2 separate regions of the Homo sapiens genome follow, and region 2 is linked to region 1. Evidence: fine-mapped expression QTL. Tissue or cell type: skeletal muscle. Region 1 holds a variant in brackets; the other region holds the start of a gene. All regions are shown on one strand. Distances are between the middles of the regions. Region 1 overlaps SMOC1 (SPARC related modular calcium binding 1). Region 2 holds the start of SMOC1 (SPARC related modular calcium binding 1).

The links. PIP is the estimated chance that this variant, and not a neighbour inherited with it, causes the effect.
Region 2: SMOC1 starts here. The variant in region 1 is fine-mapped to the expression of SMOC1 in skeletal muscle (FUSION, PIP 0.95).

What each region holds. Positions count from the first base shown.
Region 1 is chr14:69,927,559-69,932,924 of GRCh38, reverse strand. All of the region lies in intron 1 of SMOC1 (SPARC related modular calcium binding 1), which reads right to left. Among named protein-coding and RNA genes, the nearest start is that of SNORD169, 48 kb to the left of the region's middle. The variant C/T (reference allele first, on the strand shown) is at 2,165.
Region 2 is chr14:69,877,109-69,882,409 of GRCh38, reverse strand. It overlaps SMOC1 (SPARC related modular calcium binding 1), which reads right to left and starts at 2,994. Exons shown (of 12, transcript NM_001034852.3): 1 at 2,633-2,994. The coding sequence starts at 2,731. RefSeq lists a silencer at 2,807-2,896.

The DNA.
Region 1 (5,366 bases):
TGGTGTAGTCTTGCACAGCTTCCGTCAGAATTGCTCAGAATGTCTCATCGGCTTACAGAAGGTGACAGAAGAACTGCTGCCAGCGTCCCCAAAATACTTCCAGCCCTGCCAGAGCTGCCTTTGCTCTGCACCCCCCGCCCACTCCATCACAGCTCCTGTAAGTGGTCACCAGGAAAAAGCCGCACTGCCCTGCCAGTGTCTCTCCATCTTCCGGCACAGGGGCTCCCAAAGCACAGGGGTCGGTCCCCAGGACCACAAAGCCGCCTTTGAATGAATAGAGCAGAGGCCGGCTGTGATATCAGAACAAAGACTGAATGTGCCTAATCCGGCCTTTGAGAGCCGGAGGAGAGGGCTGCACCTGTATGAACAATGCTGCATCTGAAGCCCAAATGGCACCGAAAGGTTCCTCCAGCTCCCACTGCCCCCATTCCTCCTGATGCCTTTGTGGCGGCTTTGTTCCTCACTTCTACCACTCCTTTCACTCAGCACACCCCCAGCCCCAGGGACAGGAGGAGGCATGTGGGGCTGAGGGTGGCGTGGTAGTAAAGTCCCGGAAGGCCCCAGCGCAGCAGAGGAAGCTCATCACCTGTAACATAGTCGTGCATTCTACAGCAAAACAGCAAGTTTACTATAAAGCCACTGACCCCCTCCTGAGCCCTTCAGGAAGCTGTTCCTGTTCAGGGGCTGTGCCTGTGGCTTCACACATCTGCAGGCAAAACAAAGCACCCCGCTGGTGGACTCGTGTTTTGCGAAACACAGAGGGTAGTGGTGAAGAAGGGTGTTCCCGTTCCCTTGAGCATGCCTTCACCATACAACCCACCACGCACCTGTTGGAGGGTTGAGGAACAGCTCGGGTTCTGAGGAACGGGATGGCAAAGCCACTCTTTGGACTGCCAGAACAGGCGGATGCTCCATGGCTTTGGCCCTGGTGAGGTCAGTGCCCCGCTCCCTGCGCGACACCTGCTCCACTTCTCATCCCACGCCTTGAGGTATAGCTTGACTCAAGCTGCGTCACAGGAGGGAAAAGTGAAGAAAGCCCTCAGCTAATGACAAGAATCAGAAGTAGAAAGGCAGATTCCAGCCAAAAGTCTGTAGTCCTTTAACTGGACACTAAAGCGTGGCCATTTCTTTCTCTCCTTCCCCACCTTTCTCCATGTAAACCTTGACAGCTGCCACCGCCACATCCCCTGATTTTCAGGAGAATCTTCTCTTATTTTTCATAATTGTGGTAAGACCTGGTACTGCCATAGTCTCCCTCAGCCATCCTTTCTAAACATCTAATGGCTCTCTAGAAATCCTTCCTTAAATCCAACCTAAATCCCTTGTGCTGCAATCTAAGCTTATTTCCTGTTGATCAATTCAACAATTATTTCTTAAGTGCTCATTAGAGGCTTGACCCAGCGCCTGCTGTCAGCTCCCAAAGAACATGATCTGGCTCCTTCCTCCAAAAGCCAATGCTCTGGGTCAAGAGAAAAGACCAACAAACAAGGAAGAGCTATACACTGCCCGCCTGTCATGGAATTGTCCAGAGGACGACAGCGAGTGGAGCTGAAGGTCTTGGAGAAGGAGGAGTTGGGGCAGCTGGGAAGACTGCCCGGAGGGAGCGGGACTCAGGCTGCCCCTTGAAGGATAAATAACATTTGGCCTCATGGCTGAGACGAGGAAAGGCATGTCAGGCAGAGGAGAGCACCCTGAATAAAACGGCCATGCGTGCGCAGGAGACAGAGGAGACGCCCATGTGGCTGCTGCCAGATGTCTGTGTGAAGGTGGGATGGCTCCCTCAAGACAGCCGAGCCTCAGTTCTGTGGCCCAGAAAGAACCCGTGGAAGCTTGGGTAGGAAAGTCACTCCATAAAACTGATGTTTTCAGCTGCTTGTTCTGGCCACAGAGGGCAGAACAGAGTGAAGGGGAAAGAGAATAAATGCAAAATGGACAGTTAAGAGGCACTGGCACAAATGCAAGCATGAGGTGTTGACAGCAGCCCGGGCTACACTGTGGCAGTGGAGATGGAAAAGAAGAATCAACACAGGAGATGGTTTAGAGGAAGATTCTGGAAGCAGCTGTCGCCATCTCTGGTTCCAGCCTACTTCAGCAAATGCAATGGAATCAGGTCACCCCCTGCATTCCCAGCTCCAGGCCAAGAGCTGCATCAGGCACTGGGGTG[C/T]GAGTGTCCTTGCCTGGGAAGCCGGCTTCAGAAGCCACTAGCTGGCCAGGCTCTCAAGGTCCTCCCTTGACAGAGCTTTTCTGAGGCCTAAGCCCTGAGGCCCAGGAACTCCCATTTCCTGACCCTTTCTCTTGCATACCCAGGGGCCCTTCCTCAGACCTCCTACTCCTAAAACCCCAGCCCAGTGACCTGGCTGCCATCACTTACCCAGAAAAAGTGGCTGGAACTGACTCGGTGTTGTTCCTCTGCACCCAGTCAGCTGCTAAGGGGAAAAACAGCCCTGCCCCAAAGCCACAGTTTGGTTCAAGCAATTTAAACATAATGTTGCACAAAAGAGGACTCGGTTTCTGCTCACCCTCATGCCAAGAGCACATCCATCCAACCTGAGCAATGTTTTTGGCACATCGCAAGTGCCCCTACAGACCTCTCAAGTGAGGTGATCCGGCAGCTGACGGCCTTCTGGGACGGGCAGTGTGGTGGGATGGGCAGTGAGGTCCCTCGGTAACTGGCTGGAGAGGTGCAGAGGTGGGAAGGGTGCTGTCAGGGGGGTGAGAAGGGTGCTGTCAGGGGAGTGGGAAGGGTGCTGTCAGGGGTACAGTCACTGGGGATGAAAGGGGTGAGGGCAGAGGTGGGAACAGAATCAGGAATGATCCAGAAGCCAAGCAGCAGAAGCACATGTGGATTCCACAGCCCATCTCTGAAGTGGATACAGGGGTTGGGGCTGCTCCCCCAGCCACGTCTCTGCCTCCCTAGGGGAGGGTCACCACAGATGTGGGGCCGAACTCTCAAGTCCTGTACCAGACCCTACTTGCATCTCCAGAAAAGAGACTGATCCTAGCTTGGCCCAGACACCAGGAAGAGGTTTCTGAGTAAGAAGGCCTCTCTTTTCCTTCGTCAGCCTAACGCCTCTGGGGCTGCCTCCTTCCCTGTCCGACCAAGAAACAAGCCCCACAATCTGGCCAAACTCCCAATTACCAGTAAGAAGCAGTTCCACCTGTGTTTAATCCAGAACCAAGAAGCTCTTTATTGAGTTGTACTTTTCCCCCGGGAGATCATATCCCTCCCTTCTTCTCCAGGGGCTTGGATTCCCAAAGAAGCCTCCAAGATTCAATACTCTGGCTTCCCTGAGCCCCAGGCTTCCCTCTCACACAGCTTCCAGGACATGTCTCTAAAACACCCCAATGTCTTAGAAAGCACTCGGTTTCTCAGGCATCTCTGTGGCCAACGTAGCACAGTAGTTAAGAGTATGGCGTTTAGAATCAGACAGACCAGGATTTCAAATCCCAGCTCTATGACTTACTTGCCGCATGACCTTAGGCAAGTCACTTAACCTCTCTGAGCCTCAGCTTCTTCATCTGTAAAATAAGAATGCTCATTCCATGGATTGGTCATGAGGAATAGTGAGATGATGCATGTAAAGCTTGTAGCCTGGCACACTGTAAATACTCAATAAATGGTAGCTATGTTTATTAGGACTCTTCCACAGCCCTCAGACTGAAATTGTTTGGGGGAGGCAGATGGAGTAGGGAATGGAAGGGAAAGGCTTCAGCAAATGGGGTGCCTCCTCCCTCTTCCTTCCATAATGGGCGAGCATAGAGCCTCCAGGGATCTCTGATGTGGCAGATGCTGGACAGTCACTATAAAGACATGAGATGCCACCTCAAGAAGGTCTCTTCCTATGCAGCTTGCAAGCTTGCAACCCCGGGGAGACTCCCAGCTCCTGGAAGAGACCTTCCTGAGGGATCAGGACCCTCCAGAGAGTTTCACTCCAGTGTACAGAGACTTCCAGATGGTCATTCCTTCTCCAGAAAGGTATCTTTCCCTGTCCAATATCCCAGCATCAACACCACCTAAGAGTTGGGGGCTTGACCCCAACTGTTAAATTTATGACAAGTGTAGAAAATAAGAACATACATAAGCAGAGGAAGCATTATATTTAATATACGCATGCTTTAACTATTCAGGCTTTGAAGATATATAATATTAATAACTCTACTCAGATGGGTACATTAATTAGGCAAAATGGAGTTCAAAGAATTCTCCATTAATCTAGACTTTCCTCCCAAATTGATATGTGAAGCAGGCTCTTGTTTCACTTGTACTCTGAAATAAAGTCCTGGGAAGCAGAAAAGGGACCCCCCCCCCAATGAGCACCTCTAAAGTAGTGCACATAGAAACCCCAAGGCACCCAGCCACACCACACCAAGGATCAGGAAGATCCAGAGCTGGAACCTCGCTGGAGTTTGCAAATCCAGCTATAAAGCTGTCTGGGCTGGGTCGGACCCTCACCCCTGGCTGGCTCTGGCTCTAGCCTCAAACACACTGAGCCTGGATAAACAAACAGGGGATTACGCTGACCCAGACTACGAGGAGACTGCATTTTTGCCTTCTGAAAAAGTCGCAATTTGCCAAGAAAAACCATCTCTGATTCAGACAAGGAAAATCTCGAAATAAATCAGAGCTGCACACAGACCCGGCATAGCTGAGGAAGTCTGCCTGCTTCCTGGAGGAGGAGGGCTGACTCAAGGTAAGCCCAACCTCCTGCTTTCCAGCCTGGCAAGCCAGTGACCAGCATCAGCCATCTGGGTGCCAGCCTGAAGATTCAGATACACAGATCCTCCTCCAGGCCTGGCCTTGGGCAAGTCCCTTCTCCTCACTGGGCCTCAGATGTGAAGCTTCCTGGACTTCATTCAAAGCACCTTTTCTCTTTGGCAGGAATCGCACTGCATCGTGCCCAGCATCCCTCCTTTCCCTACTTGCCCAGTTCCCCACTGCCTTCTCTTCCCTGCACTGACCCCTTCACCCCTCTGTTTATTCTTCCTCAAGGGGTCCCTCTTAGCTTCAAGTTACAGGACACAAAGGAACTCGGATCCATTACCCCTGGAGGAGGTGACCTGAAAGTCCCTGCGGAATGCTCAGTCCTGCCAAGTACTTGGTTCAGAAGTGAGCAGTCAAGTACTAGCACCAGGCCCTGCTAGCCTCCCTTCAGAAAACCAGAGCAATGGCTGGAGAAGTGTCTCCACCCCCAAGCAATCCTGCCCCTCCTCGGAAGTTTCCCTCCTACCACCTTTTTGTTGTGGTGGTTGAGATGGAATCTGACTCTGTCGTCCAAGCTGGAGTGCAGTGGCGCAATCTTGGCTCACTGCAACCTCTGCCTCTGGGGCTCAGGCAATCCTCCCACCTCAGCCTCCCAAGTAGCAGG
Region 2 (5,301 bases), 50 kb after region 1:
ACTGGGGTCTAGGCCTCGGGGGAGCTCAATTAGTGAGCCAGATAAAGTTAAACTGAAAGGGCATGCTCTTGGTTTCCTAGAAAGCCAGCTGGAAAAGATGCCAATCCTTAAGCCTCTGTCACTCAAAAGATTAACAGAAGAGACTTAGGAGCGCCCACAGGGAATAATGCAACAAGCCAGATGTTTCTGCTCCTCGGATGACGCCGCTCTCAACAACCAGAGCTACACTTTTGAGGCCCCCAATAAGCCATAGAAAAGAACTGGAGTCTTTGGGGATAGGTTGAAATTCAGTCATTTGCCTTAAGTGATACAGACACCAAAAAAATATTAACAATTTCTCTGCAGACTCCCCTGATGTATCCGGGTTCTGTATTTCTCATCGAGCCATCTCTTTCTTTAACAGAAACAGCATCACTCGGATGAACACTCACTATAGCTGCCTGGTGGTGGGGAGAGCACACAACTTTTCAATCCATATAAACTGGAAGCTCAGGCAAGTCGATTGGCCACCCTGAGTCTCACTTTGTCATCTGTAAAATGGCTTTTAAAAGACCCAACTTCTTGTTCTCGTTCGAGTAAGAGATCATGTAAAGTGCCCAGCCCAGATGTTCATAAGTGGTAGCTCTTATTGTTATCTATAAACACAACCAGGTAACCACATGCTCGAGACAGCACCTTCTCCTTGGTACTTTCTAAACACACCAAGATGTGTGTGCACATGTGTGTGTGTGTTTGTGCATGTATGTATTTGAGTGAGAGAGAGAAAGAGGGAAAAAAAGAAAGAAGGAGAGAGAGAGTGTGAAGCAGCTTGGACATACACCAGCCTATTTACAATTCCTGCTTACGTTCCATCACTTCTATCAAATTAATAAACTAGAGGAGCTGGAAGGAACCTAACCACGGTGCCTGATTTCCCCTCAAGTCCCTAGCTTTCCCCTAAAGGTTGCTTCCTCTGATTCCAGGAGGCCAGGAAGGAGAGCCATATGGCTTGAGACTCTAGACAAGCCCAGCAGCAAACAAACGAGCCCCCCACCATTTGTCTCAGGGCCTCTCTCCTTTCGACCCTCCTGTGGGCGGCCATCCAGATTTCAGTCGGGGTGCTCTGGTCTGCATCTCTGTCTTGACTGTTCCTAATTATTGGAGGGAACGCATGGCTCGCCTGACCTCAGAGTTTAAGAGCTCTGAGTCCTAATATCAAACCAAGCAGCTTCATTTAAAAGGCATCCTCATCTGCATCCATAAAAGTCACTCCTGGAGCCCTTACTTGCCCCAGCTTTGGGAATGCCTGCTGTCGAGGATTTATGACACGCCCTGGATCTAATCTGCCACACTTTAACTGCTGCTGTTGCACATCTGGTCATAAAAGCAAGGGCTGGCCCAACACGGGGACAAACACTTTTCTTTCCTAAATGGCTGCAAATCTGATCTCACAGTGATACCTGGGCTTGGATGTAATCAACCCAGCATCTGGGCAGTCATTAAGACTTGTCAAGCATTGCAAGACTTTTTCTCCACACGACAGCTATAAAGATGATTCTCATATAGTAAAAGCTATGAATAAACAACCTGCAATCTGAACAGGTGGTAAAGGGCCAGGCCCAAGGATGTTCAAGAAAGAAAGCACGAGTTGGTTGAGCCAACCTTGTTTTCACAAAGATCCTAGCTACTTTCACATGGACTCTCAGGCTGCCAGTTAAGAGTCAATTGCCCTGACATAAACTGATGCTTGGCCAGAGATTGCCTGGATTAAGTTTGGTCAAAAGAACCACTAGGTCGTTTAATAGTACATGTTTCAAGGCAGTGAAATTCTTTATTAGACCAATTGGTGGGGGGTGTTGCGGGGATAATCTAGACCAGAAATGAACACAATACTGTCGGTTCCAGGAGATTTTACAATGCCCTGGACAATCTGTCCTGTGCACAGAATTGGCAGGTTTCATGTCGTTCAGAAACTCCAATCAGACCAAGGTTCAACGAGTAATTCAACCTCCCAGCACTGAACCCAGGGGGAGAGACCCCTGAACATTGCGCAACTCTCCCCTCCCACCTCTTTACAGTACCCCACCTCTGACCCTCTTCCAGTGCCTGCCCGGCAGGAGGTGACATTAAAATTATCTGCTGTGGGTTTTACGAGCAGTGATCGCTTTTTAAAACAACAACACAAGGTCCTTGTGTGGCTCGCGGGTAACCTAAAACTCTCCAGGCAGAGCTGCACCCGCCCCCGTCCCAACCCCCGCCGCCTGCCAACAACTCCAGCGCGCTGGACCGGGCGCCAGCGTGAGACCACAGGGAAGCCCTGCATGAGCGGAGAGCGAGCTTCTCTCCGACGCAGGAGGCACCTCTGAGGGTCTTGAGCAAAATGCAGGAGAGAAGAGATTGGGAAAGAAAACCCACCAGTGACAGTTCGGGGACAGGGGAGGGATGGTGGGTCAAGAAAGGGAGAGTGGTGGTGGCTCCAATGGGAGAAAAAAAATATTTCAGCAACTTCACCAAGCCCGCAGGGGACCTGGTAGTAGACAGAGGACAACAGGTCTCTGACATCTCTCTTCCCCCTCCTCCTTCCCTCAGGGATGAGGGGGGAAGCAACCTCCCCTCCCTCCGCAGGTGGGCGCAAAGCTGGGGGCGCACTTACCCTGGGGCCTGTGGTGCGGTGGCCGCGAGCAGGGGACAGCTGCACCAACACCAGCAGCAAGTGGGGCGTGAGCAGGCGGGCGCAGCGCGCGGGCAGCATGGTGCCAGCCAGGCTGGGCAGCCGGCAGCGAGCGGGGTTCGCGGGCTCCGCGGGGCGCACAGCGCGCCTCCCTTCCTTCCTTCGCTCGGGGCCCTCGCGGCGGCGGGGAGCGGGCCGTGGTCCTGCGGCGGGGGCTCGCAGAGGCTGCGGTCAGGGGACACAGTCATGAACCGCGCAGGAGGGGAGCTGGAGCGCGAGCGTGTGCTCTGCGCGCGGCGCTAGCTCCGCTCGGCGGGGCCCAGGCGGCAGCAGGTTGGACGCCTGAGCCCGGGCCATGGGAATTCCCGTTATAAACCCCCGGGAGGGGCGGGGCGGAGCACGGCGGGCCTGATTGACGGGCCAAGAGGCCTGTTGAAGCCGACCCTCTGGCAGGTGAAAGCCAATGGGAGAGGGGCAAGAGGAGCCACTCGTGGTCAACCCCCCGCCGAGGAGCTCCGCGGGAGTAGGCCCCGGGAGAGAGTGGGATAAAGAGTAACTTTCTCCCGGCACTCCTGCCCGAGGAAGCCTGAGAGAGCCCCAGCAGCCGGCACCCACCAGAAGGCTCACCTGGCTAATAATAATGCCTTAAGCATGTATATTTCTTAGCTCAAGCTCGTGATTGTCCCAACATCCTGGTGAAGTAGGCAGGGAAAATACTCCTAGCCCCATTTATCAGATGAGAATGCTGTGACACGAAGGCGCCGAGAGATCTGCCTCCCTGCTGCATCTGGGAAGAGTAACTGGGAAGTCGCTGGATGACCCGCACAGGGTGGGCTGTGGCGTTGGAGTGGGGAATGGGAGCATCCACTTCTTTCAAAGACTCTCCCTGGGAGGTGACATCCTGAGTCTCACAGCGGCTGCCCCGGGAGAAGTCGCAAGGGACAAGGTGAAGCGTGTGCTGGGCATTGGCCGCTGGGGAGGGCCTCTTGGGTACGGTAACCCCCTACACACACACACACACACACACACACACACACACACACACACACACACACACACATCTCCCAGCCCTATGGTCCGTATGATCCAGGATTGGAACTCAGGCATCCTAGCTTCCCCCTCTGAACTGGAGGGCAAGGGGCAGCCTCTCTATAGCCCAGCAGCTCTGGAAGAGGCGGGCAGAGAGGCCCTGGTCCCCTGATGGGAGACAAGGAGGAAAAGTATAGATGAGGAGGCGGCAGTCTGAGGATGCAGAGATCCCAGAGATGGGGTAGAACAAGGAGAGGAGATCTCTCCCGGGTGCCCGACCCTCTTGGAGAGGACAGCTCAGCGGAGCTTCAGTCAGATGTTGGGGGGCTCTGCCCAGGGCCATCCCCGGAAGGCCATCTTGGGAATGGTCACAGCTGCATCACACCGGCTCCTCAACAGAGCAAGGTGCTCAGCTGCCTTCAGTGAGACTGACATCTCCAGGAAATCACAGGGAAGGGGGCGGGGGGGCGCAAAATGAAACCCAGAGCGATCTCCTTATGTGGAGAACAACCTTTAGTGCTTACTTCCATCAGTATGGGCTACTTCGCAGGGAGGGATTCTTTTCTATAATTTGATTGTAAGCATCAGTGCCACACTCCCCCTCCCTATCTGGTCTGAGAGGTCCTAAGATTAGCTCTGCTCCCTCAGGGCTTCTCTCCTGGATTCCATGAAACAGCTTCGCACCTGACTCCTGAATTCAGTTTTGCCCTCTCTCCACACTGGCCCCATCCAACCTCCACACGGCAGCCAGTGTGTCTATTCGCTATTTAGAAGCCAGTGATCCTTTTAAGCAGCAAACCGGAACTCACCATTCCCTGCTTAAACGACTTCCCCTCTCCCCATTGCCCTCTGACAAGAAAGCTCAGACTGGATGCTGGAACAATAACAAAGTACTTGTGGTTCTCCAAACAAAAATGAAGCGCACTTCTAAAAGAATGGTCTATCTTTTCCTCCACTGGGAATGAGTGCTTTGGTCAGACAGACTCTGGAGCTGTACAGCAGGGTTCAAATCCTGAGTCTGCCACCTAGTGGTATAAGCTTGAAGAAGTCACTTGACTCATCCAGGGTCCCGTTTTTCTCTCTGTAAAATGGGGATAAAAATAGTATCCCCTGCCATGAGATGTTGTCAAAAGTAAAGGAGATGGAGTCTTTAAAGCCCTTAAAATAATTAAGTGAAAAGTATCACAATATGGCATTTGAAGAGGACAGGACAAATGCCTCATCTCATTTTATCCTCAGAACAATCTTCTGAAATAGGTCAGACATTCCTACTTTACAGGTAGATAAGTGAATACTCCATGAGATTGTGACTTGCCTGGCCTCATTTGGCTGGCAAATGACAGAGCCGAGACGCCGAGACTCAAGGCAAGGTTTTTGGAGTCTAATTCTGCTTCCATCATGTGATGGCTGCAATCTCCAGTCTCAAATCCCATAGGGTTGGACGTTCCTCTGTGCTAATTGGGAATTTCTTCAGTGGCCTACAAGGTGAACTGAGACTGGTGAGCTCCACTGAGCTTCAGAGGAAAAGGATGTAAACATCAGGGGTCAGCCCTTCCTGGAAACAGCCCTTGTGACCTGGCATCCTGGAGTTTGCCCAGCTGGACTTGTGACACTTGTCCAGT